Regions from separate parts of the Homo sapiens genome. Here region 1 is linked to region 2. Evidence: fine-mapped expression QTL. A gene starts in region 2. The other region holds a variant in brackets. All regions are shown on one strand. Distances are between the middles of the regions. Region 1 overlaps ATP6V1C2 (ATPase H+ transporting V1 subunit C2). Region 2 holds the start of ATP6V1C2 (ATPase H+ transporting V1 subunit C2).

Region 1 (2,500 bases), 20 kb after region 2:
AGTCTCCAGAACTTCAATGTGTGATGTTTCTTTCTATCCCAAATGCTTGGGGGATTGCCCAGTGATTCCTAAAAGACTGTAGGCCCCAGGGGATTTCAGCAACACTTCTCTGGGAGCTGAGTTCAGGTCCTCCTTACCTGTTCCTTCCAAGGGGAAAACTTTCTTTTTCATTTTTTGAGACCAAATCTCACTCTTGTCGCCCAGGCTGGAGTGCAGTGGCGCTGTGTCAGCTCACTGCAACCTCTGCCTCCCAGGTTCAAGTGATTCTGCTGCCTCAGCCTCCCAAGTAGCTGGGATTATAGATGTGTGCCACCAGGCCCGGCTAATTTTTGCATTTTTAGTAGAGACGGGGTTTCACCATGTTGGCCAGGCTGGTCTCAAACTCCCGACCTCAGGTGATCCGCCCGCCTTGGCCTCCCAAAGTGCTGGGATTACAGGCGTGAGCCACCACACCCAGCTGAAATTGGCTTTTTGAAGAGGGTAGAGCATTACTGTCTGGACCGCATGTGGGTGACTCTATAATGCCAGCTTGGCCAATGAGAATTCCGTTCTTAGTGACAAGAGTAACTTTGCTGGGTGGCTCTACACAACTGTATGCAGAGGGGAGCCCCTCTAAAGAGCTAAAGATCAGCTCGTTATTTAAACTTCCAGTTTCTGTGAAGCCAAGTTGGAATTTAAAGCATGGTGTGTCTGTGTCCAGAGTCCCCAGGGGGAGCCTCCTAGTGAGCCTCACTGGACCTTTGTTTTTGTGAAAAGAAAATCACTTAATTGCTGTGGAGTCACATTTTCCTGGTGACTTTGCTGCAGGGCATGACGATTTCATTGTCCCTTGGTGGAGGAGGAAGTAGAGAGACAAAGGATGGGGTGAGGTGCCCAGGGGCTCCTGAGTCACCAGGGGAGGCAGGGAACACAGGGTCCCCCTGGAAGCTTCTGGGCCTCCCCTCTCAGGTGTGGGGGCCCCTCTTGTGTGGCTGCAGGAGTGAGGCTAGGGCAGGTGGCCCCTCTCATCAAGGTACTCTGACAGTGGCCGGGCACTGGCGGGCCTGGGGTTTTGGGTTATCCAGAGCGGGCATGCTAGCACCTGCTTTCACGGATGGAGACTGGCTTTAGGGGAAGGCTGGGGGTCAGGACCAGCTGACATGTGGCCACCAGTGAAGTGACCTGGGGCAAGCTTCTGGGCCTCTGTGCACTCCATTTCCTCAGCTCTAAGGGC[C/T]TTGGCTTTGTGTGTGGAGCATTCAGATATAAATCCTTAGTGGTTTTCTGGGGGCAAAGAGAAGCTCCCAGATGCCCTCCCTCCGATCCTGCCGTGTAACCTGGTTGCGCTCTTCCCAGGCATCTGGGTTCCTCCCTCCCTCCCTCCTTCCCTCCTTCCTTCCTTCCTTCCTTCCTTCCTTCCTTCCTTCCATGGAGTCTCGCCCTGTGGCTTAGGCTGGAGTGCAATGGCATGATCTTGGCTCGCTGCAATCTCGCTTCCCGGGCTCAAGTGGTTCTCCTGCCTCAGCCTCCCGAGTAGCTGGGATTACAGGCACGCACCACCACACCCAGCTAATTTTTATATTTTTAGTAGAGACAGGGTTTGGCCATGTTGTCCAGTCTGGTCTCCAACTCCTGACCTCAGGCGATCTGCCCACCTCGGCCTCCCAAAGTGCTGGGATTATAGGCGTGAGTCACCACGCTGGCCTTTCTGGGTAATTTCTGACAACCAAACAACTCTATCCTGCGTTTGCTAGAATTTTCCAGAAAATCCAGGGAGGGAGAAAGCCTTCTCTTTGGTGTTGCATAGACTTGCCCTCAGGATCCTCAGAACCTGTATCCACTACTCCTCAGCGGGAGAGCTGGAGGTGGGAGACCCAACCCTTCCTTCTACAAAGAAGGGAGCGGCCTGTGCAGTTTGCAGGGCAGAAACCCTGGAGACACTGTGTCTTAAGGCTACATAAGAATCTCCTCTGCTCGGGCCCTGCGATCTGCAGCCTCAAGTATTCACCTCCAATTCCAGCCCTCCTGCTGGGGTGCAAGGCTTCTAGGCACCCGCCGGCTGCTCCTCTCCCCATACCCCTGGACTGGAAGAGTCCTGGGGGCCCTGCATGGCAGGAATGTCCTGGCTGTGGGTGCGGAAGAAGAGGAGACAGATCTCAGGAGCCCCCCTCACCGTTGGGATAGAAGCCCTTCAGCCATCCTCTACCCCAGGGCCATTCTACCACCCCTGAACGCCTTGGGGTCCAGGGTTTAGAAATCAGCAGGGCTAAGAGGTGCCCCCGTAGTGTTTGTGGAAAGGAAGGAAAGGGCACGTTCGGTACAGACCTGCCACAGGCAGATTTGTGAAGCTCCTGGGCGGCCCCTTCTCGCCTGATCCCCCACCGCAGCTTGCCCGTGTCTGGAGGCTGCCTGCCCAGCACCCAAAGGCCTCCAGTCCCTACCTGCCCTGCCTCACACCTGGGCAATGCCCCCCACTCCTCCCACTCCATCTTACCCAATTTCTTCCCTTGGGGATTCCCCAGAT
Region 2 (2,910 bases):
CAGGTGACCTGCCCACCTGGCCTCTCAAAGTGCTGGGATTACAGGTGTAAGCCACCACACCTGGCACAAAACAAAGTATTTACAGGTAACCAGGTGTATAGAAAGAGTGGTGCCACGAGCCAGGTCACAGATACTTCTAAATGTGTTGCTCAGTCTCTGAGAAGCCAGGTCCATGGCTTTGAACCTTGCAGATGGGAAAATGTGGACTAAAATAGAAAGCATGTGTTCTTCCTCACCCTGATTATCTAGTCCTGCAGGCTTGTTGGGAGCAGTAGAAAGGACATAAGACTCAGCCACAGGCCCGAGTTCCAACTGTAGCTCTGACATAACCAGCTGTGTGACACTGGGCAATTCACGTAACTTCTGTGGGCATCTCCACCCTTGTTTGCAGATGAGATCTGCCCCCAGCTCTAAGATGTTTTCCCTGGCTGGATAAAATGTCGTGCCTGGATAACGTCCAAGATTGGAGACCACCCCGCTTTAATGTCTAACTGGGCCACTCCTTCCCTGGAATAGCCACTTAATGTCCTCAAACATACCGGAGTTTCCCCATCCCTTGGTTTCAGGTATCCTCCCTCAGGAAGATGTTGCAAGGACTGACTAATGCACATTAGTGTCCCAATAACGATGCCTGCTGCAGGTGCTGGGACTTCCAAGTCTAACCTAGGCTGGCAGTACGACCCCACTGTGATCTTAAAGCCACCTTTCTGTCCCGTCTCTGGGGCTTCCCATCCCACCCTATGTGATTACAGCTTAAGTCTCAGATGATGTCAAATCCTTCTGCCAAAGACCCTGATGCATTCACAAGAATGGGTTGATAGATAAGGCTAGTTTACACAGGAGGGGGAGTCCACGTTTAAGGAAGCAAGAACACCGTCTCCAATGCCCCCTCGAAGGACACTCTTGAGATCTTCATCTTTCCCAGAAACCACTGAAAACATCGCCCACATGGAAGGATGCTTTAAAGCCTTCTCCTTCGGTCCAGAGAAAATGAATTCTCCGAGTTTTCCTTTGGTTTTGTCTTGTTTTTAACCTTCACACGTTAATTTCCAGGGTTTCCCCCTCCTGGTTCCAGACAGCACCGATCATGAACTCATCTCTGATCGTCGTACGGTGAGTTGTAACCGCCCCCCCACCCCCCATCCACAGGGCAATTCGGAAGGTGGAGAGGGTGAGGTGGGAGTTTCCTGGGCAACCGGGCGCACACCCGCGCCCACACGGACAGGAAAAGCTTCGCTGTCTACGCAGGTGCGTCCCGAGCACCTGCGCACCTGTTGCGCGGCTCCCCACAGGTGGGCCCTGTCTCTTGCACTGGCCTGGAGACACCTGGGAGTAGGTGATTCCCCTGAGATCCGCGCATGTCTCTGTGAGGCGAGAGTGGGTGGGCAAGCGGGGCTGCGGCGGCCGCAGCGGGAGGGCGGGGTGGTCCCGAGCTCAGAGCCTTTTCCCGACTCCCACCCGGCTCAGCCGTCCACGCGTCCCGGACGCGGCAGCGCAGTCGTGCGGCAGGAGACCCCGTGGGACGCGCCGCAGAAGCCCCCAGGGCCCCGGCCCTCGCGCGTAGGGGACTGGAGACCCTGCGCGTCTCCTCCGCGCCTTCCTGCCCGGCGCCTGCACCTGCTCCCCGGCTCTCGGGCCCCTGGCTGGAGCGAGGCGGGAGGCGGACGGCCCGTATGCAAATATCCTGCGGGGCCGGGGCCGCCTCCAGAGCCCGGGATAAAAGGCGGGGCGGGGCGCGGGGCAGCGAAGCCGCTGCCTCCCGGGAGCCGGCAGAGCGCTCCGGCCCCGCACCCGCCGCCCGTCGCCCGCAGCCCCCTACCGCGCGGCCCGCGCCCCGCCGGCTCCCGGTAAGGACGCACCGCGGAGCGGGGACCCGAGGCAGGGGCGGGGTGGGGACACAGGCACGGGGTCCGGCTGCGCACCAGCCTGCGCTTTCCCATTGGAAACGTGGGCAGCGTGCACCTCCGCGCGCTTCCCCGCGGCCGGGCTGGTAGCATCTCCGCAGGTGCTGCGGCGGGCCAGTTCGTCCCCAGGCCATGGGCAGTCAAGGCGGAAAGGAGCTGCGTTGGGTCTGCGCGGGGTTAGGAGAGAACAAAATGCCCTCGGATTGGAGCGGGACCGGGAGTCCGAAAGGAAGAGGTTCCACCAGGGGTCTCTGGCTCCTCAGAGCTTATCCTGCTTTCCCCCAGCCGTCCGGAGACGCCGCGGGGAGGCAAGCGGAAAGGGGGAACCTGGCCGAGGGGGAAAGGTGCGGGTGTGGACACCTGTGAAGGAGCAGCACGAATCGAATCGGCCGTAGAGGCTGCAGACGCGGCCGCGAAACCACCGGCCACGCCGGGCAAGGGACCCAGCACTGCTGAGCGGGCACCTCGCCTAGTGGAAAAAAGACTTTAGTAGTTCCCCTCACCCCCTACTACTTTTTTTTTTCTTATTTAAAAAAATCCTCTGAAGTCTATTTTTAAAGCTAATACCAATCACAAGGTTGGCCAGTTTGACCTGCGGTTTGACCTGGTAGCCTGTTGTGAAAATCCCTTCCTCATCCCACGCCTTCCTCCACCCCATCCTGCATCCCAGAAGATGCAGTGTGGAAGGAAGACAAATATTCCCCCAGAAGGTGTCCGCCTCCAGCTTACTGTCCTCCCGTTTTATGATGCCTGATAGGGGTTGTTCACTGAGGTGGAGAGAAAGAAAGGAACCTCTCCCTCCTCCTCTGCTCCTGAAAACCAGCCAGAACCACTGCAGGGACCAAGGAGCTTTGGAGTTTCGGGAACACCTGAGGGCTGCCCAGGTGGAGATAAGAGCTTTGCTTTTGCAAATGGATGTCCTTGGAGCTCATCCTAGAAAGGATGAATTGGAGGGTAGGGAGTGGTGAGGCGGGGATATCTGACACATCTCTCCTTCTGTTTCTGT

The links.
Region 1: its variant is fine-mapped to the expression of ATP6V1C2 in aorta (GTEx, PIP 0.93).

What each region holds. Positions count from the first base shown.
Region 1 is chr2:10,740,528-10,743,027 of GRCh38, forward strand. All of the region lies in intron 3 of ATP6V1C2 (ATPase H+ transporting V1 subunit C2), which reads left to right. Among named protein-coding and RNA genes, the nearest start is that of ATP6V1C2, 20 kb to the left of the region's middle. The variant C/T (reference allele first, on the strand shown) is at 1,214.
Region 2 is chr2:10,719,885-10,722,794 of GRCh38, forward strand. It overlaps ATP6V1C2 (ATPase H+ transporting V1 subunit C2), which reads left to right and starts at 1,746. Exons shown (of 14, transcript NM_001039362.2): 1 at 1,746-1,847.